4 linked regions of the Homo sapiens genome follow. The protein of the gene in region 2 interacts with the protein of the main gene of each other region in a pairwise test. Each region holds a gene or a part of one and is shown on either strand. Other genes may lie near its edges. The genes, in order: DAPP1, FXN, SAMD3 and CORO2A.

What was found.
Region 1: the proteins of FXN (region 2) and DAPP1 interact in binary tests that used the Homo sapiens proteins (3 or more experiments, as listed by UniProt).
Region 3: the proteins of FXN (region 2) and SAMD3 interact in binary tests that used the Homo sapiens proteins (3 or more experiments, as listed by UniProt).
Region 4: the proteins of FXN (region 2) and CORO2A interact in binary tests that used the Homo sapiens proteins (3 or more experiments, as listed by UniProt).

What each region holds. Positions count from the first base shown.
Region 1 is NC_000004.12:99,861,804-99,868,833, reverse strand, and holds part of DAPP1 (dual adapter for phosphotyrosine and 3-phosphotyrosine and 3-phosphoinositide), read right to left. Parts: intron 5,825-7,030; coding exon 5,762-5,824; intron 5,065-5,761; coding exon 4,979-5,064; intron 3,109-4,978; exon of another isoform or gene 3,039-3,108; coding exon of another isoform or gene 2,998-3,038; intron 2,801-2,997; coding exon 2,713-2,800; intron 2,278-2,712; coding exon of another isoform or gene 2,260-2,277; exon of another isoform or gene 2,216-2,259; intron 718-2,215; coding exon 649-717; 3' UTR 1-648. UniProt on the Homo sapiens protein: May act as a B-cell-associated adapter that regulates B-cell antigen receptor (BCR)-signaling downstream of PI3K.
Region 2 is NC_000009.12:69,031,661-69,038,760, reverse strand, and holds the start of FXN (frataxin, mitochondrial isoform 1 preproprotein), read right to left. Parts: upstream 3,010-7,100; 5' UTR 2,979-3,009; coding exon 2,814-2,978; intron 1-2,813.
Region 3 is NC_000006.12:130,143,796-130,149,962, forward strand, and holds the end of SAMD3 (sterile alpha motif domain-containing protein 3), read right to left. Parts: intron 2,387-6,167; coding exon 2,215-2,386; intron 1,628-2,214; coding exon 1,545-1,627; intron 1,010-1,544; coding exon 725-1,009; 3' UTR 520-724; downstream 1-519.
Region 4 is NC_000009.12:98,133,608-98,140,637, forward strand, and holds part of CORO2A (coronin-2A), read right to left. Parts: intron 4,082-7,030; coding exon 3,965-4,081; intron 1,349-3,964; coding exon 1,199-1,348; intron 1-1,198.

The sequences.
Region 1 (7,030 bases), on a different chromosome or scaffold from region 2:
CATAGGACATCTAGCTCTCACAGTTTTGTCATTAGAAGCAAAGGACCTGCCAAATTTCTGAACCTTTTAAAAAGAGAAAATAAATGCCACAAGCATTTTCTATTTTAGTTTTGGAAATGTTCTTTTTTTTTTGTATAAAGGGGGAAAAATTAAAAAAAAAAACCTCTCCCCTGAAAATATTTGATGTTTTCTATCTGAATATAAATCCTGCAGAAGTCATCTAAGCCTCCAAGTATCTGTTTCCTTCTTGGTTAATAGCACAACCTGGATGTCAGACAGGCTGACCATGACTCACAGTGGGACTCTAGGCAACTAGTGTCAATAGGCTTGGGGACCACAATGAGTGAAAACAAAAACCCTTCCTCTTCCATTGTGTGTTCTAAGAGTGAGCAGACCTAAGAGTGGTGGTTTAAGCACTTTCTATCAGAATGGTGATTGCTTCAGTGTTCTCAAGGAGATGGCAACATCATGGAAGGGCAGCAACGTGAGTCAGCAACGTGGTATATGGGTCCCAATCAGCATCTGCTTCTGATTTGTTTTTGAAAGAAAATCCTTAGTCGGTTTTCATTTGAAGCCTGCTGCAGATCACAGCGTCAGGGAAACATTCCACCTTGCTCCTGGGCCAGAGCATTCCTTGGCAAGAAAGATCTATTTAAAGATGAACGACCGAGATCGGATCGTGCCTTCCCCTTGGTTGAGCTGTTTTCTTATTTGTGACTGTAATAAAGTACACACACGTGTATCCATTATTGAGTGATTGTAATGAACCCTGGCTTCTAACAAATATTAAATAAGACATGTTGATTAGTAAGGATGTCATACAACTCTAAGTTAATTATCATGTGCTCACCCCCAACTATAAGCTAATTATCATGTGTCCAGAAAAATTTTCTGTATTTTTTTTTAGGACACATATTGTAAAGTGATTGCTAAAACATGTACAAATTGGGAATTGGTCTAATACTTACAGTAATCTATAAAATGCAATACTATTCAATGAGTTAAAAGGAAGATATAGATCTAAAATTGATAATATGGAAAAATGTTCATAATATATTGCTAAGTGAAGTGAGCAAATATAGAACACTGGCAAGTGATTTGTTTTGTTTGGAGTTTGTATATTATCAATAAAGATGCTATGAACATTATTGTAACATTTTTTAGTGGATACATGCACTCATTTCTCTTAGATATACCTAAGCATGAAAATGCTGAATTATAGTGTAGGTATATGTATAGTTTTAAAAGAAACTGCCAAGCAATTTTTCAAAGTAGCCGTACACATTTTCATTCCCTCTAGCAATGTAGGAGAGTTCTAGTTCCTTCGCATTCATGCTAATACTTGATATTGACAGTCTTCATTGTATCCGTTCTGAAGGGTGTGTAGTGGTACATCATTGTGGTTTTTACTTCTAGCAAGTGATTAAATTTTGTTTTTAAATATTTATGTGTAAAGAGAGAAGTCTAAAAGTGTGTATACTTGATATATTTTTCTATAATTCTTGTATAATGATTTTGTGTTACTTTGATAATTAAAAATAGAAAGAATAAGAAATTAATCCATATCTGAGCAAAGGTTTCACAAGACAAATTATCCCTCACTGATACATTGGAAGAATTTAAAAATGAATGGTATACTTATTTGAATTTCAAACTGAAAACATAACTGAAAGCAAAAGTCTCAGTATCTAGAAAGGAATTTTCATATATATCAGACAATTTTGCAAAAAATAATTAAGAAAAATATTTTGTTTGAAATCATCTGGCCGGGCATGGTGCTTCACACCTGTCATCCCAGCACTTTGGGAGGCTGAGGCTGGTGGATCACTTGAGGTGAGAAGTTCGAGACCACCCTGGCCAAAATGGTGAAACCCCTTCTCTACTAAAAATACAAAAATTAACCAGGCGTGGTGGCAAGCTCCTATAATCCCAGCTATTCGGGAGGCTGAGACATGAAAGTCACTTGAACTCAAGAGGCAGAAGTTGCACTGAGCCAAGATCACACCACTGCACTCCAGCCTGGGCAACAGAACGAGACTCTGTCTCAAAAAAAAAAAAAAAAAAAAATAGAAAAAAAGAAATCATCAAAGTTTTTAAGATGGTATTTATAGGAAATTTTAGTCAGCTTTAAGGACAAGTTCTTGGCTAAGAACTCACTAACTTGCAAGCACATGAAAAACAAGTAGAAGATTGGTGAAGTTTTATAAGTACTCACTCAGTCTTCTCCTCGGGAGATATACAGAGAGCAGACAAAATAAATCAGCTTTTGTCCTTGACCTGCACAAAGTGATGCTTACATTGGAAACTAAGCTAAGTGCCTCTGGCAAACTTTCTTCTCTAACAATTTAAAAGGCTTTTCAACTAGAGAAGTATGTCAGCTTTCCTCTGTCAGACCTTCTGGTTCTAAATGTCCCCCTCCAGACAAAACTGAACTAACTGACACACCTTATAGGAAGTCTGATAGGTGGTTATTAGGCTAAGGCTCTATGTCTAAGACCCAAATATGGCTTAATTCTTTCTTTTTTACAATCCTGTCTCCATCTCTTCTCATGTCCCAGAAGAATTAACAGACTGTTCCGCAAGCCTGGAAGTAGACACCCAGACATCTCTTTGATTCTTGGGTCTAGTCTGACTCTTTTGATAGAAATATGTTTGAAATCATCAACATGTTATTTCTCAAGACTTGACATCTGAAGGCTTAAAAATTCTCACCAATTTCCAGCGTAATATCTTGATCCACTCATCAGCTTCTACTCCGGTCTTTGCACAGAGATAAAATGTCCTGAATGGAAATACCAAACTAATAGGACAAAAGAAAGAACATAAGATATTGCAGATCATTAGCTATATATATATATATATATATAATATATATAATATAATATATAATATAATATATTATATATATTATATATATATATATATATATATATTAGTTGAACACTAATTAGAGTATTGCAAGGGAAAAAAGAATTGATAAAGGATGCAGGTAAGTACCTTGAAGTGCTGGTATATATGCACCTACTCCTGCCAGCAAACTGCAGAAATGTTAAGGAAGTTGTAGATTCATATTATTATTCCAAGTCAGATGTATATACTCGAATAAGACTTTGAAGAAGAAAGAAACATGTTCAGGACACCCCTAGATCCTTTTGTGGTTCATGTCTTAGGTTAACTCTAACACTTATGTATTCATTCAGCTGATCTCTCAAAAACTTGTGCTATGATCCAAAGAATAGGCAAGACAGAGAAGTTTGCTAAAAAGAACTCATTTGTGTTAGCTTGCTTCAACGAGGATAACTCTGCCTTCTGTGGTTGTGGGCAATTTCAACTATTGGGACAATAAAAAGAGACAATAAAACTAAATTAGTTATTTCTCCCATCTCTGGCCAAGAGTCAGTCTCTGCTGCAGGGAATAAGAACTTTCCTACTGGCACAAAATACTTTTCCTAAATGTATAGTAATTTTTCATTTGACTGTGTCTGATTACCTAGTTAAAATTATGTAAGCAATAAGGTCAGCCCTAAATTACATACTGAACATACTTCCTTACTTACAGTTGAGATGCAAAAATACCAAAAATCTTTTTTCTTTTTGTGAAAAAGCCTTCAGAAGGGTTTCTATATCTTAAAGCCTAAGCAGTGTATTTTGTTGATACCAGCAATTAAAGTTGAATAGGTAAGAGGTAAGTCTCTGTGCATAGAAGCTAATACCTGGATGTGAGGTCTAGTGGAGAGTGAGTGGACAGTGGTGGGGAGGGAGTGATACAGTGCATATACTCGAAAACTGGTTTCTGTCATTGTCATTGTTTGGTACTCCCTATGGGAGACATTATTAACTGTCTATTAATACAGATAATTATCCCTTTCTTTTGCTAACAGAACCCCAAGCAATAAATCCTAATTTGTTTAAGCCAATTATGATCAGCTGCTGGGGATGGCCATGGCACCCGGTCTCATAGGGGAGTTTCTGGAGAAACATTGGTTTTCCTGATAAAAAGGGACAGACACGGGTAATATCATCCCTACATCTTTCTTTGTACTTTGTTGAAAATATGAGACCTACAGGTGTAGTAGACACTCAAATCCTGAAGTAGCCAGCATGAGAAAAGGCCAGGAGAACAGTAGAGACCCTGGACCTGACCTTGTCACCATAGCTGCTTGCCTCCTGATTTTTGGATATATGAGAAAAATAAAGCTCTGCTAGCTCACAGGGCATGTCTATGCAAATTTTAAAAAGACACCCATTCTCAGTTGATATTATAGAATTAACATTAATTTCTTCAGTTGTAATAATGATACTGTAGTCCTATATGTGATATTTTATTCTTAAGAGACACATACTAAAGTCTTTAGGAATAAAGTGCCATGATGTCTGCAACTTACTTTCAATTGGTTCAGGAAAAAAAAAAAGTGGATAGACTAGGATAAAGCAAATATGGTAAGATATATTAATAACTGCTATGGAGGGTATGTAAACGTATGTCTTTCAACTTGTGTATGCTTGAAAAACTTTAAAATAAAAGGTAGTGGGAAATAAGACATTCCTTTCTCAAGACTCTTCTCCCAGTTAGAACATTTTTATAACATACTGATTATGTTAGAACAAAATATTTTTGTGCCATTTGCCAGAAATTGTCATAACAATACAAATCACCTATCATTAGAGTCAACAAAGTTATAAATAAAATGAGGGAGAAAGCCTCAAAGAAATTAAATTGTCTAAGATGTGAATGGCATCCTCTATGTGAGTCATACTTCTCCAGTACGCAACATAAGCTGAGCTGACCTGCCTGTTTGTTTAAGCTACTTTAAATGAGGTGTTATGTCACACTCAGCTGAAAACACTCCTTACATGCAGGCATGCCCCTCATATCTGATCTTTGTAGACATTAAGATATACAGCTTTCTATTCCTTAGCCAAAATAAGTGTCTGGCAAGAAGACATTAAAAAACGTTTTCTTTATAAAACAACTTACCAAAAACAGTTTACCCTTTCTTGTGAATAATCGAATTGTACAGCTGAACATTCTGTTAGGTCTAGGATCCGAATTGGTTCTGGTGACTAAATAAAATAAAAAGCAACGTATGTCACCATTAAAAAAAAAAAAAAAAACAGACAAATCTGTCCCTCACTTATTCCCCTCACAAGTTTTCCACTATGTGCAATTGTCATATTTCCTTTCACTAACAGGACTGACAATAGAAAAGCCCTACCAAGGGAAGTCCTTGGTTTTGGAATGAGCCTTTCATAAAACTGGGCATTAAGTTACTACCTTTATCAACTTACTGATGAAGATGGATTTTAACACATGGAAGAGAGGTATATTTTTCTCTCATTTTTTAAAACTTCTACTTTCTTAGAAATGTTATATAAGAAAAGTGAGAAAAAATAATTTTAAATTGGCTTAATGAAATGGGCATGGGAAATGGAGAAACTGTATTTTTAATAAAGGGACAAATTGCTGCAAAGAGACAGTTAATAAATTGTGGCAAGAGAATAATTACATTGTCCTAAACAGAGGGAATTACGTGCCCTGGGGAACTATGGTTTAGCCAATCCAAGAAAGCAATTTCTGGGACATACATCTCATCTTTGCAAAATAACTCTGCTCATTTCAGGAATCAAGAATTCATATCTCCAATCATTTATTAGGTATTTCAGGTGGATATAAAAATAATTTCAGAGATTTTAAAGACCTAAGTTTCTTTCATCTAGAGAATTGATTTTTAAAGGAAAAATATATTATCATGTTTCTCACCATCTGGTCTTTGAAGTATTTCAGTTCATTCCTGTGCAGAGTAAACCATCTTGTTTTCCAGGTCTGAGAAAAACACACACACACACAAACACACAGACACACAAAGTTTTGAATACAGGAATGTAATATTTGAACCAGATGATTTACTTTCATTTTAAAAGTATCTAAAAAATTAAATACTATAACCCTGAAAAAATTCTTTTGTGTCATTTCTGAGAAAAAAGTTTCAAAATATCTATAAAAATTAAAATAATTTCATGCATTAAGCTCAAAAAATTCTTTTGTGTCATTTCTGAGAAAAAAGTTTCAAAATATCTATAAAAATTAATTTCATGCATTAAGCTCATAATGAAGGCAGATATATCATTAGTATATTTTTAAATACAAAAAGAATTAGTCTATCATAAATATTCAATGTGACTTATAACAAACCACTACAATTTCCATTTTATTAACTCTATAATAAAGATAAATATTGTTCTTTGAGTACCTAATATGGACGATATACTATCATTGGAGGCTTTATATATTATATCCAATCCTCACACAACAATGCCAGTATTATTATTCTTGTCTTACAAACAACAAAACTGAGGTTTAGGAACCCTGACTCACATGATATTCTAAACCTTGCCTAAGAACTCCAAGGTATCAGTGGTAAAAACCATCATTGCCCGCTGTTACCTTCTTATATACAAACAGCATCCTACTCTATCCTGGGTGTCAATGTGCCCAGTTAAAAGAAGTAACAGAGGATTTAAACATAAATATGCTATGAATATGAATACTCTCTGTCCTCAGGGAGCATTCGATCTAGAAGGGACACAAATAATGAAATTATTTAGGCTAATTCCAAGCATGTCAGTGTCTGTGAGAGGTTAAATACCGTGACTCTTAAAACGAGAAGGAGCAGACACATTCCATGAAGGTCTTCTTGGCACATTGAGATGAAACAAAGGAATTCTAAAGATACAGTCTCATAAATGGGGAACATTTGGATACTCTGAACTTGTAAGAGCTTAAATTGTGTTTTTCTTTGGATTTTATAACATAGTTTCAGTAGCATCAGTGATGTTTTTGGCCTATCCTTAAAGAAACATTTTATACAATTTTGACTTCTTCCTTGTTTTAGAAGAAGAACGAAAGATGTTCTAGAGTAAACTTGCTATCTTCATCCTCAATCATTCCATTATGAGGACTATGTTTTATTGACTTTTAACTGCAGGCTACACCTATGCAGGGCTTTGTCAAAGAACAGTCAAGTCATTT
Region 2 (7,100 bases):
CTGCAACCTCTGCCTCCTGGGCTCAAGTGATTCTCATGCCTCAGCCTCCCGAGTAGCTGGGACTACAGGCACCCACCACCATGCTGAGCTAGTTTTTAGTAGAGATGGGGTTTCACCATGTTGGCCAGGCTGGTCTTGAACTCCTGATCTCAGATGATCCACTCGCCTCGGCCTCCCAAAGTCCTGGGATTACAGTCGTGAGCCACCGTGCCTGGTCTCATTACTGATTTTTAAAATACTGATTACATGTTGGAATGATAATATTTTGTATGTACTAGGTTGAATAAATATATTGTTGAAAATGATTTTTTTTTCTTTTTAACTAGAAAATGTAGAATTATGTGTGTGGCTCCCATTCTGTTTCTGTTGAACAGCTGCTTTAGAAGTAGATGCAAGGGGTGGAGAAAAGGGTGGGGAAGAGGCCTTCAAGTGAACTCAGTTTCTGATGAATTTTGGAGACCAGGGGGAGCTTAGGGTCAATCCAGGACAGTCAGGGCTTTAAAATAATTAAACAGGATGGTGGCCCCAGTTGCCACTGCCACCCACCCAACTCCTCAAATACCCAAGATGTGCAAGGGAACTATGGAACAGACAGGTTAAACAAATGTGATTAATTCAGTATAGAAAAAAAGAGGCCCAGCTGGTGACAGAGGTTGCTAACCATCTATCCAGAAACCCAGTGTCCACCTCCTGGGCGGCAGCGCCAAGTTGGGTGTGTTTGTCAGTCAATAGCCCTTAACAGCCACCAGGTACCATCTAAAAAACTGTACCACCTCTTGTCATTCTCCTAAATTAAAAACTCTGCTGATGGCCAGACGCGGTGGCTCACGCCTGTAATTCCAGCACTTTGGGAGGGCGAGGTGGGCGGATCACCTGAGGTTGGGAGTTCGAGACCAGCCTGACCAACATGGAGAAATCTGTCTCTACTAAAAATACAAAATTAGCCGATAATCCCAGCTACTCGGGAGGCTGAGGCAGGAGAATCACTTGAACCCAGGAGGCAGAGGTTGCAGTGAGCTGAGACTGAGCCACTGCACTCCAGCCTGGGCAACAAGAGGGAAACTCTGTCTCAAAAAAACAAAACAAAACACAACTCTGCTGACAACCCATGCTGTCCACACAGGCAGGGGTGGAAGCCCAATACGTGGCAGCTCAGATAGTGCACAGAAGCCAAGTAATAAATGTCTGCTTTCCTAGAGGAGATCTAAGGACCATCATGGCCACACTTGCCTATTTTTCCAGAGATGCTGGGAAATCCATTTTATTTTTTATTTTTATTTATTATTATTATTTTTTGAGACGGAGTCTTGCTCTGTCGCCCAGGCCGGAGTGCATTGGGCGATCTTGGCTTAATGCAACCTCTGCCTCCCGGGCTCAAGCGATTCTCCTGCCGCAGCCTCTGGAGTAGCTGGGATTACAGGCGCGCGACACCACGCCCGGCTAACTTTTCTTTATTTTCTTCTTCTTCTTCTTCTTTTTTTTTTTTTTTTGTATTTTTTAGTAGATACTGGGTTTCACCATGTTGGCCAGGTTAGTCTTGAACTCCGGACCTCAGGTGATCCACCTTCCTAGGCCTCCCAAAGTGCTGAGATTATGGGCATGAGCCACCGCGTCCTGCCAGGAAATCCATTTTCTAAGTCCTAACTTTTAAGCACTGGCAACCAATCCCAAAGTTTCTTCAAACACAATGTGGGCCAAATAACACGTGTGGGAAGTTCAAGCCTAAAGTACAAACTCCGGAGAGCAACACAAATATGGCTTGGACGTGGCCTGCCTCTTTCATCTCCCCTAATACATGCGGCGTACCAGCCACTCTGAAGGGATCCCCTTCCGCCTTCCTGGCCTTTGCCCAGACGGTTCCCTCCTCGTGAAACACCCTCTACCACTTCCTTGGCATCTTCAAGACCCTCATTAAATACCATGTCCTCCCCTTGAGGAATCTTCCTCATCCCCACAGCCATTCTTTGGGTTTCCTCCTTTCAAGCCGTGGCGTAACTGGGTCAGATATTTCTTTGTACCCCCCAAAGGAAGAAAGGGGAACTAATTTGAAGTTCTGAAGACTTTATCTATGTTATTCCCATTTAATCCTCACACCAGGTCCGCAAAATGGGCGTCACCTTTATCTTCTCCCTACAGAAAACAAAGCCACGTCTCAGAGAGGTTAGGGGAATCCCCCAAGGTCACACAGCTCTGCGGAGTGGGGCAGAATCTGGAATAAAGGTCGGGTCAGTTTCCAAAAGCCAGGGCCCCTGCTGCTCTAGCTATTCTGCAGCTCTGAAAGTTTCACCTCGTTCCAGGAAAGCATTTCGTTCAAAAAAATCCAGCCTTGAAAATATTAGGTGTGCGCGCGCCCGTGCGCGCAAACACACACACACAACACACACGCTATATACAGATACACACAGACACACACATTATGTGTATGTATATACTAGCAGATACCATCTATTAATATTACTGAAACAAGTTATCGCAGAGAAGTGACAAGCATGGAGACAGCCGCACACCCCTCGGAACCGGTCCCCTCCACCAGCCTGCCCTGCCTTCGCCCGTGCCTTGACCCGCAGTCGCACCGCAGGACAAAATGTCCCCTTTTCCTTCGGAAAGCAGAAGCCAGTGTAAATGCAACCGGGAGAACCAGAGAAGGGAGTTGCAAGGCCGCTTCCGCCGGGCCGCCCTGAGAAGGAGCGGGGTGAGCTAGTCCAGCGCGCGTACCCGGAGCGACCCCGGCGTGCGCGGCGCCTCCCTGCGCAGGCGTGCGGCGTGCGGCCCGCGGCGTGCGGCCCGCGGCTGTTCCCGGCGCGGATACTTACTGCGCGGCGGGGCGTGCAGGTCGCATCGATGTCGGTGCGCAGGCCACGGCGGCCGCAGAGTGGGGCCAACTCTGCCGGCCGCGGGACCCGGGTGAGGGTCTGGGCCTGGGCTGGGCTGGGTGACGCCAGGAGGCCGGCTACTGCGCGGCGCCCGAGAGTCCACATGCTGCTCCGGGTCTGCCGCCCGCTCCGCCCTCCAGCGCTGGGTGCTGCGGCGACCCCTGGTGGCCACTGGCCGCAGGCACTCTTCTGTGGGGGAGCAGCTAGAGGTTAGACCTCAGGAAGAACTTCCCAGCTTAGCACTATTCGTGCATTTAACAAAAATGGAGAGCCTGCTTTGTGCAAAGCACGGAGTGCAACCAGGACCCCTGACCCAAGGGAGACTGCAGCCTGGTGGCCCGCCGCTTCTAAAATTCTAAACAGGAGGAACTTGGGAGCTGCTGTCTTGCTGGGAAGTGGGTGCATGCACAAATTGAGGCTGCTTGGCCGCCGGTATGGGTTTACAGCAGTTGGGTATGTGGGGCCAGGAGACGGATGCCTTGTGTAAATCTGTACTCTGCCCACTTCCTAGCTGTGTGACCAGAGGGCAAGTTAATTAACCTCTCTGTGCCTTGTTTATAAAATGCGTTTTATAAAAGTTCCTACTTCATAGGATTGTGGTAAGGATAAAATGAGTTAAGCCCTGTAAAGTTTTTTTTGGACAGGGCATGTTCCTGTTAAGTGCACAATAAATATTGTTAATAGATTTTATTGATTGATTGATTGATTGAGACGGAGTCTCGCTCTGTCGCCCAGGCTGGAGGGCAGTGGTGCGATCTCGGCTCACTGCAAGCTCTGCCTCCCGGTTTCACGCCATTCTCCTGCCTCAGCCTCCCGAGTAACTGGGACTACAGGCGCCCGCCACCATGCCTGGCTAATTTTTTGTATTTTTTTTTTTTTTTAGTAGAGACGGGTTTCACCGTGTTAGCCAGGATGGTCTCGATCTACTGACCTCGTGATCCACCCGCCTCATTTATTTGTTTGTTTGAGACAGAGTCTCACTCTGTTGCCCAGGCTGGAGTGCAGTGGTGTGGTCCTGGCTTACTGCAACTTCTCCCTCCCGGGCTCAAGCAGTCTTCCCATTTCAGCCTTCCAAGTAGCTGGGACTACAGGTGTGCACCACCACACCCAGCTAGTTTTTGTATTTTTTGTAGAAAGGGGGTTTCGCTATGTTGCCCAGGGTGGTCTTGAACTTCTAGGCTCAAACGATCTGCCCGCCTGGGCCTCACAAAGTGCTGAGACGACAGGCGTGAGCCACCGTGCCTTGCCTATTGTTGATAGATTTTAAAAGAGAATTTTATTTCTGTTACATATTACAAAGGGATGCAAATTGTGAAAGTTTTCTTCACATTTTATATATGCTTTAGAGGATGTCAAATGTGAGCCGAGTGTGGTAGTGCATGCCTGTGATCTCAGCTACTCAGGAGGCTGAGGCGGGAGGATCACTTGAGCCTGGGAGCTCAAGGCTGCAGTGAGCTATGATTGTGCCTGTGAATAGCCACAGCATTCCAGCCCGGCCATCATAGCAAGATACTGTCTTAAAAAAAAAGAAAATGTCAGTTGTGTACACTTTCCATGGCAGAGAAGATGGGAAGGTACTAAAGTTCTTCCAAAGCCACTTTGTGAATCGTGAAGAGAGACATGTTTACATACTTAGGATGCTAAATGACAAGTGTCAAGAGGAATGTAAACTAACAGGTGTGAGTGTTGAGTGGGAGATTTATATAGAGCTAGGGATGGGGGAATCAAGGAAGTATTCATGGAAGAAGTGGTGTTGGCACAGGGCCTTCAAAAATAGGGTGGAGGAGGTGGGATCTGATTGCCTATCAAAGAGGTGGTCCAGGGCATTCTGGATGAGAGACATCCTTCTGTGTTTAATTAATTCTAGGCAGCTGCTTAAATACTGTTATGTATATGCCAGGCCTGGAGAAATCATTTTCCCCCTGCAAAGTATCTGGAGATGCTTTTGATTGTCACAACAGGCAGCTGTGGGGTGGGTATGTTCTACTGGCATCTAGTAGGTAGAGGCCAGGGATGAAACATCCTGTGATGTGCAGGACAGCCCCCCACCTGTGCAACAAAGAACTATCCAGTCCAAAATTCTGCCAAGATTGAGAAGCCCTCCTTGAAACCATAAAGGGAGAGCCCATAGGCATCAAAGGGTAGTGTTTTCATTGCCAGCCATGGTCTCAGACTCTGCCACACCAACAGTGAGGCCCTTCCTCACATCATCAGAACTGCATTATATACTCAGAGAGAGAAAGCTGCATCATTAGTTATTATTATTATTATTATTTGAGACAGAGTCTTGCTTTGTTGCCCAGGCTGGAATGCAGTGGTGCCATCTCTGCTCACTGCAATCTCCACCTCCTGGGTTCAAGAGATTCTGTCTCAGCCTCCAGAGTAGCTGGGATTGCAGGTGCCCACCACCACGCCTGGCTAATTTTTGTATTTTTAGTAGAGATGGGGTTTCATCATGTTGGCCAGGCTGGTCTCGAACTCCTGACCTCAGGTGATCCGCCCGCCTCGGCCGCCCAAAGTGCTGAGATTACAGGCGTGAGCCACCGCACCCTGTGCTACATCATTATTAGCTAGCATGCTTAGCAAGTTCTGGCATAGAAAGGTCACTAGCAAATGCTCCAGCTCCCTGCAAAGTTGATATCATTGCCCCATCTTTTTGGCCAAAGAAATAGACATAGAATAGCATATCAGAGAAGACGAAGGCTTCGCAAGAACTTGTCTTTCTCCACTTCCTTGGAGGTAGTCAAGAGGAATCAGGCACACTTGGTAAGAAGCTGGGGCACCGTGGCGTGGGCAAAGATGTTGAGGGACTCTGTGGTACACTGTAGCTGTTCCTCTCTTGGTTGCTTTTAGCCTCAAGTAGGCAGATCCTAATAGCTGTCAGGTTATGGGTAGGGGAGGATATCACCAGAATTCCCTTGCTCTGCCATTAGGATATTTTGATAGGATTTATCAGAGGGCTATGATTATCAAATGTGGTCGCTGGGCCAGCAGCCTCAGCATCACCTGGAAACTTGTTAGAAATACAAATTCTCAGGCCCTATTCTCGATCTACTGAATCAGAATCTCTGGGGTTTCAAGGCCCAGCAATCCATGGTTTAACAAGACCTCCAGGTGATTCTAATGTGCTTTAAAGTTTCAGAAGCACTGTGGTAGCATAGGCCTTGGGCAAAATTGTGAGTTAAGCCAGTGTCACCAGGGTGATCATTTTAAATCTAAAAATCTAAATCTCAAATGTGAATCTAACCATAGCCCTCTGCTTTCACCACCATCAAGATAAATTCCAACTTTCTTAGCATGACAGAGGAAGCTCTCTTGCCCACCTTAGCTCTCCCAGCGCCCTTACCACTCTCTTCTGTACACCCCACTCTGCATATTGGGAGGCATCTAGACATCTTTGCTTCTTCAAGCTATTTGTAGTTCCTAGAACAAGTGATGCTTTTTCCCTCTCTGGCTATCCCTCATGTTGTTCCTTAGTCTTCCATCCCTTTGCCTGGTATGGAAGATTGGATCTTCCAAAGAAGGCCACACCAATATTTGTCACATGTCATATGCTGTTTGGGACTTTGACATTCCTGTCACCCAGGGATGTTATCTATTCTCCTCCCTTCGAATTCGGGTTTGGGCTACAACTATTCCAACCAACAGGGTACTGCAGAAGTGCTGCTTGGTGACTTCCAAGTCCAGGTCATAAAAATGATGCATCTTCCTTCTAACTCCCTCTCTCTCTCTTTTTTTTTTTTTTGGGTTTTTGTTTGTTTGAAACAGAGTCTCATTCTGTTACCCAGGCTGAAATGCAGTGGTGTGGTCATAGCTCACAGCAGCCTTGACCTCCTGGAATCAAGTGATCCTCCTGCCTCAGCCTCCTAAGTAACTGGGACTATAGGTGTGCATAACCACACCTGGCTGATTTTTAAAATTTTAAAAATTTTTGGTAGAGACAGAGTCTCACTATGTTGCCCAGGCTGGTCTTGAACTCCTGAACTCAAGCAACCTCCCACCTCAGCCTCCCAAATTGCTGAGGTTACAGGTGTGAGCCACTGTGTCCGGCATTCTCTTTTTGGGATGCTGACACTGAGGACCAGCCATCATGTTTTGAGGAAATCCAAACTAGCCAAAGTAGAGAAACAATGTAGAGAGAGCTGAGGCCCCCTCAGCCAACAGCCAGGGTCAACCAGTAGACATGTAAATGAGTCATTCTTCAGATAAATTCCAGCCCCCAGCCTC
Region 3 (6,167 bases), on a different chromosome or scaffold from region 2:
ACCCAAAAAGTACTTATGCAGCCATTGTTAAGAGCAGAACAGATAGAACTGGACTCTGGGCAGTAGCCAGTTGGGCATGCAGGATGAGTCACTGTGTTTCCAAGGCGAGAAGCAGTAGCAGATGAACACAGGTCACAGACATCAGGACCTGTACCAGCAAGATCAGCCAGCAATGAGGAGACCTCAAAAATGCCGCAGCCCTTATTCTCAACAAGCGATTAAAGACAACCAGATCTCCTGGGGCAAGGCAGATCCCCTGAGGGAGAGAAGAGTATGTGTCCCTTCTTGAAATGTTCAATGCAAGTTCAAAATGTTCCCAAGTGATGTTCAGACCAAAGAGACAGCCCACAGGCCATAAATGTGCAGCTCCTGTGCATTAAGTGGGCATGCTGAATTCAGTCCAAGGCCATTCTCTAACCTGAAGGATTTGAGTACAGTGTATTTCAAAAAAACTGAGGCACCTCTGAAAATATAACTTAACTGCGGAATTTCTAAAAACTCAAAATAAATCGACAGCTCTTTAATGAAGTAGAATTTTATTACAGAATTTCACAAAGAACTTAATATCTAAGTGTAAAGATAGAAAGCATTGAAATTCATTAGCATCTATAAATACAAGATGATTTTCTCATACCTACCTCTACCACAACCCTAAATCAAAACAATTTCTTATGAAGCTTCAGTTTTCCCAGAGGTAAATTCCAGTACAATATTTGGCATGCTATTAAGTGAGTGGGTGCTGAAATCCTACTTCGTTTTCCTTTTCTTTCAAAGAAGGAAAATAAGGACTGTGCATATCGAAAATCAGCGTTTCTAGGAAGTTGAAAGTTTGGGACAGTCTTCTTGGACACTCAATCCTAAATACATGAAAGGCAGCTACTAGCGCAGCCAAGGCTGTAACACAGTCGTCCACCTTTGTGAGCCTCTCCCTTTCTAAATATAAAGAAAATTCGCAGACCTCCATGTTGAAAGGGTTTTTAACTTCCAACACAGGTGTGGACACTTGCACCTGAAAAAAAGAGTGGAGTCATTACCATGATACGTAAAATAGCTAAATAATAAAACATCTGAACTTAATCATGGTATTACAATAAATCAGCTTGTTGCAATGTAGCATATTTGTAAATATGACAAACATACTTCAAAATAGACCACCAACTTTGCTTTTAAATAAGTTATCGCGGTTGGGCTCAGTAGCTCATGCCTGTAATCCCAGCACTTTGGGAGGCCAAGGCAGGTGGATCACCTGAGGTCAGGAGTTCCAGACCAGCCTGACCAACACCGTGAAACCCCGTCTCTACTAAAATACAAAAATTAGCTGGGCGTGGTGGTGCATGCCTATAATCCCAGCTACTTGGGAGGCTGAGGCACGAGAATCGCTTGAACCAGGAGGTGGAGGCTGCAGTGAGCCAAGATCACGCCATTGTACTCCAGCCTGGGCAAAAGAGTGAGACTCCATCTCAAAAATATAAGTAAATAAATAATATAAATAATCGCATGAAGATGTAAAATGTCAAACTAGTGGCCATTCACATACTACATACCTGTTCATTCATGATGACAAAAAGGCTGGGATCATCCCCAAAAACATCTGGGAGGAGTAAACATGTGGCTGTCATCTTCATGTCTGTCAAAGCAAATATGTTAACATGTGAAGTAAAAATAAGCTTTTAGCAATTGTAAGCTAAGCTAGTATTGAAACATCTGGATTTTTTGTTACCTTGGACAGAAAACAAACTAGCCTTCTTAGATCAATGTTTCACACCTTTTTAAACCATACCCTCTTCTAATAAAACATTCAAAATCTCGTATCTGCCCTCCAGAGCACTTCCAGAAGACAAGAGTTCTGTACTGTCTGTCCATCAGCCAGGAAGAATTTATGCTGCCCCTTGTGATTTGTATTGTAAAATTAACTGGTTACTAGTTCCCTAAATATAATTTTACAATATCCAGTATACTTTTAAAATCTATACCTCTCCTCCTCCTCTAATTGGAAAAATTCTTTTTTTTCCCCACCAGTTGTTTCACTTATTACTTAAATATTGAAAATTATTATTAAATATATTTTAGTAATGTAAATTTTTAATTTTTAAATATATTTTTAAAACTCAATAAATGTAAACTACTGAATTTTACTGACTACCAAAGCATAACTTTTCTAGATATTCTGATAAATAACAGATGAAATCACACCACTCCATAAGGTTTACTAACATTTCAACATGTCTTCATCTGTGTAATGTTTCATTTTTTCTTGCAATACAATATTGATTGGATTGTCCACCACTGAAAAAGAAGTCAGTATATTTTCTGAATAGGATTCCAAAATGTGCCTTGTTTTCTTATAAATATCTGTTCTTGTAAGAAGTTGGAATTCTCTGAACATCTGACAAAAGAAGAAAGCAATGGATACATCAGATCACAAGAAAAGCTAATATATAGAATGTAAAGACATAAAACCTTTAGAATTAAGCTTTGAATGCTGGTTTACACTAAGTACTCAATATTTTAGAAGTTTTAGTGGAGAATTAAAGCCTTAGGATGAGGGAGGAGAAAAGAATGAAAGCCTGAAATGAATTTGAAATGATAAATAATGGGCATGGCAAATTTCTAAACCTACAGAACTAAAACTTTGGATGCAGACTCAACTAAATGAGGATTCAAAGGGTGTATGCATATGCAGGCTATTTGGGTTACCCAGCTAAGGTTCTAAGATCTTACATTTCTTTAGGTGACTACATTGTTATGTCTTGTTCAACAAGCAGCAAAGAACAAAACTGTTAGATTTTAGGAAGCAAGCCCTGACAAATACTTAACCATAGTATCCTAAATTTAGGTAAAGGAGAGTGCTTTAGAAACTAAGAGTAGACAGAGGTAAACAGTGAAAAACGATATATGGCTGGGCACGGTGGCTCATGATTATAATCCCAGCATTTTGGGAGGCCAGGGCAGGAGGATCACTTGAGCCCAGGAGTTTGAGACCAGCCTGGGCAACACAGAAAAACCCTGTCTCTACAAAACACAAAAATTAGCTGGGCATGGCAACATACGTGTATAGTCTCAGCTACTCAGGAGGCTGAGGTGGGAAGATTGCCTTAGCCCGGGGAGATCGAGACTGCAGTGAACCGAGACTGTGCCACTGCACTCCAGCCTGGGCAACGTAGTGAGACCCTGTCTCAAAAGAAAAGAAAGAAAAAGAAACAATGTATGTGCAGATTTGACTACAAGTTCAAAGCAAAACCAGTTTACTTTATGGAAGTCCCTTTCCTCAAACTACCCCATCCTACCACTGCCTGAACTCTTCCCCCTCAGAGGATTCCACCACCACTCCCCCTCCTGTTTTTGACAGTGGCATTATCAGATTATTAGCCACCCACACTCCAGTGAATTAATTTAGTCATTGCTTTTCCTAAAACTATAAAGAACAATCACATACTACCCACTGGGCCTCATTGTTCCTTGAATGTTTTGGTAGATCATAAATTGCCTAGAGATTAGGTCTGAAAGTTAAGTTGTCAGAAAGCTGGAATGCATAAGGCATAGTGGCTTTGTTACCAGGCAACCCACAGTGGACCACTAATCTAGATTAATACCGTTAGAAAACCGTTTTCTCAGCAGGAAGATGTGAAGGGAAGGATGAAGGAGGTGAATACGCCACTGTTCTGGGCTCATAGCCTAAGAATTTCTTTTCTGACTTTTTATGTTTTGAAATAATTTCAAGTTTGCATTAAAGTTGCAGAAATAGTAAACAGAACTTACAAGTGCCCTCTGTGCAGCTTCCCCCAATTTCTGATCCAGTTGAAAATGAGCTGTAGATACAATGCCCCACTATTCCTTAATACCTCATTGTGTATTTCCTAAGTACAAGAGCACCCAAATTCAGGAAAATCTACTACACATTCCATTCAAATTTGCCAGTTGTTCCAGTCATATTCTTAACAGGCCCAGGATCTAATCCAGGATCCCATATGAGATTTAGATACCACGCCTCTCTAGTCTCCAGTCTGAAACAACTTGTTAGTTTCCTTGACGGTTTCTGAAAAGTGGAGGCCAGTTACTTTGTAGAACATTTCTCCTTGGAAGTTTTATGATATTTCAAGATTTATGCATTTCTGGCAAGAATATTAGCATTTCTCACTGTGTCCGGAAGCACAAAATGGTAACTGGTCCCAGTATTGGAGATAATTTTTATTACTTGATTAGAAATGGAATTCACCAGGTTTTTCCACGTAAAATTAATATATGTTGTATTTTATGAGGAGATACCTTGAGTTTATGTCAATATCTTGTTCCTTGTATAACTTTGATCCATCAGATTCCACATCCATTAATGATTCTTGCCTGAATCAAGTACTACTACAATAGTTGCCAAATGGTGACTTTTCTAATTCCTTTCTTTCTACATGGATTAGTTGGCTTTCTATTTTAAGATAGTTTCTTTTCTTCCACATATATTTACTTACTTATTTCTATCACTACAGGTTAATCAATTCCCATTTTACCCAAACGGTTACAAATCTGATCCTTTCATTATTTATAGAATTGCTCGAATTGCCCAGACTTGGCCAGTAGGAGTCGCTTCAAACAGACTGCCGTGCCCTCTTGGCATGTCCTTATTAGTGTGCAAGCACTTCCTTCATTTCTGGCATTACACAGTATTTCAGACTCGTCTTGACTCGTCTTGGTTTGTTGTTGTTGTTTTCATTTTTGTTTTGCCCCCAACCCTGTAGTGAGCTATTTCTCCACGAACCCTAATTCCTTTTCATGAAGAATGGCTTTAAAAACTAAGATTTCAGGCCAGGCACTGTGGCTCATGCCTATAATCCTAGCACTTTGGGAGGCCAGGGCAGAAGGATCATTTGAGCCCAGGAGTTTGAGACCAGCCTGAGCAACATGGCGAAATCTGTCTCTACAAAAAATACAAAAATTTGCCAGGTATGGTGGCACATGCCTGTAGTCCCAGATACTCAGGAGGCTGAGGTAGAAGGATCACCTGAGCCCTGGGAGGCCAAGGCTGCAGTGAGCCATGATCATGACACTCCAGCCTGGACAACAGAGAGACTTTCTCAAAAAAAACCCAACCAAAAAAAACCAAGATTTCAGCCCTGGTGTGCAACTTGCTACGGAGATGTTATTGCTTTAGACTTTCTCATAGAAGAAATCTAGGAAATGTTTGAATTTACATAAACAAAGGCACCCGTTGATCCAGAAACACCAATAACTATATATGTAAATATTAAATAGCCATACATAAAGACTAAAACCATGAATTCACATTGATACTTTCAATTCCAAACCAATACCACAGGGCTTTTCCTAACCTTCCCCTTCCCAAGCTTCTAACTCTCTTCAACAGTGAGATTCCTGGCTCCCATTATATCTCAGTGTATTTACTTATGAGCACTAACATCTGTGTAGCCAAGCTCCCAGCTGTGAATGGTCAGCCACAGGAAAGCCTCCAACACTTATACACTGCTAGTGGGAATGTAAATTAGTTCAGCCACTGTGGAAAGCCGTTTGGAGATTTCTCAAAGAACTTAAAACAGAGCTACCATTTGACCCAACAATCCCATTACTGGGTATATACCCAAAGGAATATAAAGAAAGACGCATGCACACATATATTCATTGCAGCACTATTCACAATAGCAATAACATGGAATCCACCTAGATGCCCATCAATAGCAGACTGGATAAAGAAAATGTACATGTACACCATGGAATACTACATAGCCATAAAAAAGAATGAAATCATGTCCTTTGCAGCAACATAGGTGTAGCTGGAGGCCATTGTTCTAAGCAAATTAATGCAGGACTAGAAAACCAGATACTGCATGTTCTTTCTTATAAGTGGGAGCTAACCACTGAGTACACATGGACACAAAGAAGGGAACAATAGACCCCGGAGTCCACTTGAGATTAGAGGGTGGGTGGAAGGTGAGGATCGAAAAACTACCTATCGGGTATTATGCCCGCTACCTGGGTGATGAAATAACCTGTACACCAAACCCCCACGACATGCAATCTACTTATATAACAAACCTGCACGACGTATCCCCTGCTGAACCTAAAAGTTGGAACAAAAAGAAAGCCCCCCTTTTCACAACCCCAGATTATGTCCTACAAATTAATCATCTTAATCCTTTTTCTTTCTGTTACTCAGACTG
Region 4 (7,030 bases), about 29 Mb from region 2:
TAGACTAGGACGTGACTAGTGCCCCCTGAAGTTGGGTATAGAACAACCAGCACAAATACACGCAGCAGCTCTGCAGACACCCCATACAAACAGATGAGAAAGCGCTGTGGATCGGAAGAGCGAGGGCCCAGGTTCCCTCAGTGCTCCCCACAACAATTTTAGTTATTTATTTTTGAGACAGGATTGCCCAGGCTGCAGTACAGTGGCATGATCATGGCTCACTGTAGCATCAACCTCCTGGGCTCAAGTGATCCTCCCACCTCAGCCTCCTGAGTAGCTGGGACTACTTGACGCATTTTCCCACACCTGGCTAATTTTTTCTATTTTTTTGTAGAGATGGGGTCTCACTATGTTGGCTGGTCTCAAATCCTTGGGCTCAAGTGATCCTCCCACCTCAGCCTCTCAAACTGTTGGGATTACAGGTGTGAGCCACCATGTCCGGCCCCCCACCTCCCTTTTATCCAACACAGAGGGTCCCGAGGTGTCTCTGTAAACCCCTATAGTGTCAAAAGGAAAGAACTGAAAGGCCATAGCTATGGTGCCACCAATTCCATTTGTGTACAGATTGGGAAACTGAGGCCTAGAGAAGTCAAGGCACTTTCCCAGGCTATAGTGCAGGTCAGAGACTGAGTCGGAATAGAATTGAGGTCTCCTGTACTGTGGGTCCCAATCTACAGGGCCTACTGCCTGCATGCTTGATTGTCAGTGGAGCAGGGTCGGGGGAACGATTTTCTGGGCAGTGCCATCCCATCCACTCCGGGCAGGCTATAATGAGTTGAACAGGGTTCCCCCCAAAACTCATGTCCACCTGGAACCTCAGAATGTGACCTTATTTGGAAATGGGGTCTTCGCTGCTGAAATTAGTTAAGATGAGATCATAATGGATTAGGTGGGCCCTAAATCCAATGATAGTTGCTCTCCTCTTCCTATAAGGAAGACAGGTACACAGAGAGAAGGCCGTGTGAAGACAGAAACAGAGCCTGGAGTGACGCAGCTATAGCCAAGGATGCCTGGAGCCACCAGAAGCTGGGAGAGGCATGGAAGGATTCTTCCCTAGGGCATCTGGAGGGAGCTGGCTCTCCCAACACCTTGATTTTCGATTTCTGGTCTCCAGAACTGTGACAGAATACATTTCCATTGTATTCCAGTTTGTGGGAACTTGTTGGGGCTGCCCCAGAGAAAGAATACCCAGACTCACCTTGTAGTCATAGCCAGCACTGAAGAGGATGTTGGCGGCCGTGGGGTGCCACTCCACCAGGCCTACTCTGCGCGCGTGGCCCACGAGTTCCTTCCTGTAGGCCGTGAGGTTCCTGGTCAGCAGCTGCTTGGGGATGCTCCAGATCTTAATCTGGCAGGGGAGACAGGGCCCAAGGCAGCATTAGCCAGGGCACCTTGGCACCGTCACCAGCCTAAGCCACAGATCTGGCAGTGACCAGCAGAAGGACCAAGGGAGCTCTCTCCATAGCCACCTCCCACTCAGTGGCTATGGGCATTGAGGGGCAGTGGAGGGGCAGCTGAGGGTCCTCAGACAGACAGGGGCTTCCCCAAGCTCCTCCAGCCTGAGCAGGGGCCAGCGCTGACCAGGGATGAGTCTAGGCCTCCAAATCTGCCCTTGAGAGATCTTTGTCATCCTGCTGGCCTGAGGTGGTGGGCAGGTGGCTGGGTTTCAGGCCTGTCTCCTAAGCTAGGATATCCCCAAAGTACAGTGTTCTTCTTGTCCCAAAGACCCAGGGTAGAGCCTCAAATGCCAGGATGAAGGGTTTAGGCTGCATCCTCAGGCACTAGGGAGCCGGCGAGGTCTCTGCAGCAGGGCAGGGACAAACTTCTTGCTTTGGAGGTGCACCCTGGATGGCCTGCAAGAGGAAACTCTGAAGGTCAGGAGGCTGGGCTGGATGGGGTCATGGGCCTGTATTTCATGGTGAGGGCCTGAGAAGAGGTGCTGGGACTTCCTTCCAGAGTAGTGTTGTCTGAAGATGGAGGGGGCTGCCATGGCAGAGAGTAAGCTCCCTGTCACAGAGGTATACAAATGGAGTACAAGGTGATCCTGGGATGCTGCTGACTTGATCTTCCTTATTGGTCCTGCAAGGTTCTCTGGCCCCTAGTTGATTGTATGCACTGTTTCCCTTAGAGGTATACAGGTTTTTCAGGTAGACGACTTTGCTTTCAATTCAGCAAATATTTATTTCCTGGTCATCTTGGATTTAAAACCAGGAAGCCAACCCCACGAGAGTAGTGACAGGCTCCAGATACTTCGGTCTGATGAGGGCTGTCACTGCATAGAACCCCGGGAGGAAGACACACTCTGAAGAGGTATGTTTGGAAGATGAAGGTACCACCCGCAACACTGAAGCAGAGAAGACTCCCCACTGCTAGAGGAGCAACCGTGCCCTCCAGGCCCTGAAGGCAGGGAGGAACACCCCATAAATTCACTGTGGGCATAGCTTCGGGGAGGAAAGCCCCTTCCTTCTTCAGTCCCCCAACAGTCACGTCCTGCCCTGGGGCATCGGGGAAGGGGCAGTGGCAGGCAATGAGGCTAGCAAGAGATTTATAAAGATCTTGATGGGAGCCTTCAAAGCAGTCCTGAAAAGGCAGGTATCACAAAAGTGGGGACAGTTTCAGATATTTGATATCCTGCCAGAGGCCCTATACTCCCTGGGGACAGGGCCAATTCTCACAGGACCTGATTGTCCCTTTGGTGAAATCACCTCGGCAGACACTGTCCTTTACGTTCCTCAGCATCTGCTATATGGAAACCGACACAAATCCTCTTTGAATTTTCTGCCTTCCTTTCCTGATGAACTGGTCTGCTTCTTTTGATCTAACTGAAGGTTTTGCAATACATTCTGTTGCCCATTTTGCCTTGGCTGCCAGGTAGCTCTTAGCTAAACTAGCAGCTTAGCTGCTGCAACCCTTCTTAGCCATCATTTCTAGTATTTCCTCAGTTTCTCCATCTGTGGCTGCTTCTCTTTAAAGATGTGTCACAGCACATTGGAAAGAGAATGGGCTGTGGAATCAGACAGGCCTCAGTCTGAAGTCTTGCTCTGCCTCCCACAGGCTGTGTAACATTAGGCAAATTGCTGTACCTCTCTGATCCTCAGCTTCTCCATCAGAAAAATATCCTACCTTGTGGGGTTGCTGGGGAGACTGTGAAATGATAAGTGTGATGACAGTTAGGAATACAGTGGGCTCACAATAAATGGTGACAATGACTTTTATCTTTATTTTAATCATCTGATCATATCTGTGTTTTTTAATTTTTTAATAGAGACAGGGTCTCACTATGTTGCCTAGGTTGGTCTCCAACTCCTGGCCTCAAGTGATTCTCCCACCTCAGTCTCCCAAAGTGCTGAGATTACAGGTGTGAGCCACTGAACCTGGCATATCTGTGGTTCTTGTCTTAAGCCATACCACCATATTTTAGAAGTGGGTACAAAATGAATTGTAAATAAGTAACACTGAACATTGTTGGGGCAGGGATGATAACCCTGGTACAGAACACGGGCTCAAAAAAGTGAGTGAGACTGAAGCTGCTGGAATGGTTTTAGTGTCCACATTCATCCAAGGCCCTCACAGCCTTTTATAGCTCGCTTCCTCACTATGGGATTAAGTGGAACATCTTTTCTGATCACCATAAAAATGCCCCTCATAGCCTTTTATAGCTCCCCGAAGGATGGGTTTTCCCATCGGAATATACATTTTCACTGGGCTTTATTAGCTGGGTGGAACTATTATGCCCATTTTATATGGGGGGGAACTAAGGCCCATAGAGAGGAGGGGTGGTGCCGCTAGTCCTACAGCACCAAGAATGTCTCCTCCTCTACCTTAACTTAACACCTCCCCACACAGTGACCTCACCTCCGCGATGGAGTCAGGGGCACCAGAGCCAAGAACAGGTACCATTCCACCCCAACCACCCCAATCCCACTCTTCAGGAAGGGGAAGCCCCTCAGGGGCTGACACTCACTGTGGCATCTTCAGAACAGGAGGCGATCTCAAAATCATCAAAAGGGTTCCACTTGACATCCAAAACGTTGCCTCTGTGCCCGCAGACTTTTGGGTAGTGGGGGTCCAACTTCCCTGTCTGCAAGACAGTGCCCAGGAGGGTTGGGGAGGAGGTGGATTCCACATTAGCATCTGGACAGTCACATAGTCAGTTAGCAACCAGTCAACAGGAAAACATAAGGGACAGAGCTGGGTGTGAATCTAGGCCTTACTTCTTATTCCCTGTGGGATCCTGGGGGAGTTACTTCACTTCTCTGAGCTCTGGTGTCCTCCTCAGTAAAAGGGAGCAATCACAGGTATTTCACAGGTTGGTGTGAGGATCATGGGAGAGGAGGTATGGCACAGTGCCTAGCACATGGCAGATGTTCAATAAAAGGGCATTTCCCCTCACACACTGCTGGTAGGCATGTAAAATGGTGCAGCTCTTTTGGAAAATAGTCTGGCAGTTCCTCAAAAGGTTAACCGGTTCCCACATGACCCAGCAATTCCACTCCTAGGTCTATCTCCATGGAAAATGAAAAGATAAGTCCGCAAGAAACTGTTTCACCTAATCCCAGCACTTTGGGAGGCCAAGGTGGGTGGATCACCTGAGGTCAGGAGTTCGAGACCAGCCTGGCCAACATGGTGAAACCCTGTCTCTACTAAAAATACAAAAATTAGCCGGGCGTGGTAGCATGCACCTGTAATCCCAGCTACTCAGGAGGCTGAGGTAGAACACTTGAACCTGGGAGGTGGAGGTTGCAGTGAGCTCTGATTGCGCCATTGCACTCCAGCCTGGGTGACAAGAGTGAAACTATGTCTCAAAAAAAAAAAAAAAGAAACTGGTTCACCAATGTTCACAACAATATTCTTCATAATATCAGAAAGTGGAAACAACCCAAATGCCCATCAAGTGAAGAATGGACATACAAAATGCAGTATATTCATGCAGCAGAATACTACTGTCCCTAAAAAGAGGAATGAAGTACTGGTCCCTGCTACAGCATGGATTAACCTAGAAAACACTAGAAGAAGAGGCCAGGCACAAAAGGCCACACGTTGTGTGATTCCACTTAGATGATGTTCCAGATGTGGTTTCATTGCCTGAGCACATTAATGCATCCCCCTGGTACCTGGTATCTGGAACCCTAAGTAATGCATATGAAAAATGCAGAACGGGCTGGGCGCGGTGGCTCACGACTGTAATCCCAGCACTTTGGGGGGCCGAGGCGGGTGGATCACGAGGTCAGGAGATCGAGACCATCCTGGCCAACATGGTGAAACCCTGTCTCTACTAAAATACAAAAAATTAGCCCGGCGTGGTGGTGCACGCCTGTAGTCCCAGCTACTCGGGAGGCTGAGGCAGTAGAATCGCTTGAACCCAGGAGGCAGAGGTTGCAGTGAGCCAAGATCATGCCACTGCACTACAGCCTGGCGACAGAGCAAGATTCTGTCTCAAAAAAAAAAAAAAAAAGAAAGAAAAATGCAGAACGATACATTCATGGAGACAGAAGGCAAGATTCTGGTTGCCTCAGGCTTGGGAGAAGGGGCAATAGGGGGTGACTGCTAATGAGTGAGGGGTGTCTTTTTGGAGTGACAAAATGATTTTGAAATTAGGTGGTGGTGACAGTTTATTCACAGTATATTCACAACCTTGTGAATATACTAAGATCCACTGAACTATACACCTTAAAACGGTGAATTTTCCAACATGGCAACAGGACAAAACCCCGTCTCTACAAAAAATCAAAAAATTAGGCCTGGCATGGTGGCTCACGGCTGTAATCCCAGCACTTTGGGAGGCCAAGATGGGTGGATCACCTGATGTCAGGAGTTTGAGACCAGCCTGGTCAATATGGTGAAACCCCACCTCTACTAAAAATACAAAATTAGCCGGGCGTGGTGGCACATGCCTGTAATCCAAGCTACTTGGGAGACTGAGGCAGGAGAATCACTCGAACCCAGGAGGTGGAGGTTGCGGTGAGCTGAGATTGTGCCACTGCGTTCCAGCCTGGGCAATAGAGTGAGACTCCGTCTCAAAAATAAATAAATAAATAAATAGCCAGGCATGGTGTCGCACACCTGTAGTTCCAGCTACTTGGGAGGCTGAGGTGGGAGGATTGCTTGAGCCTGGGAGGTCGAGGCTGCAGTCAGCTATGATTGTGCCACTGCACTCCAGCCTGGGCAACAGAATGGGACCCTGTCTCAAACAAAAAACAAAACACGGTGAATTTTCTGGTATGTGAATTCTACCTCAATTACATAGAAAGGGCATTTCCCTCATTTTCCCCTTTCCTAATGAGAATTCCTGTATAGGTGCTGGGAGGGACATACAGGTCCCCCAGCCCATGCCACACAGCCCTGAAGCTATTTCCAACTCCACCAAGAGACTTGGATTTCTTGGGGTCATAGAGAAACCACACCAGTTCAGTCACAGAACCTTGGACTGGCAGTGACCAATCTGCTCATTTTGCACATCACATTGCATGGCCCTGGCAGAACAGGGACCAGGACCCAGGCCCTCGACCTCCCACATCCACCATCTAGTTCCAGGTTCTTGAGCCACCCACCAGAATGCTCCCCCAGCCATTTTTATATCTAAGTGAAAGAGACAGCTGAGAAGAAAACTGGCCAACATCCATCCATCCCACAAATATTCCCGAGGTGCCCAGGGGACAGGTGCTGTTGGAGGGGCTGATTGCAAGGTGAACACTCAACATAGTCCTTGACTTTGCAGAATCAATAGTCTTGGGATTTTTTCTAGAGGGACTTTCAAGAACAGGGTGGACTCAGGGAACACCCAACCTTCTCTTCTTCCATCACCTCCCCATCTGTGTAGAGACCACTGTACTTGTTTTTTTTTTTTTTAAGAGACAGGGTCTCACTCTGTTGTCCAGGCTGGAGTGCAGTGGTGCAATCATGATTCACTGTAGCCTCGAACTCGGGGTAAGACAATCTTCCCACCTCACCCTCCCAAGTTCCAGGCTAAGAACTACAGGCATGTGTCACCAAGCTCAGCTAATTTTTAAAATTATTTGTAGAGATGGGG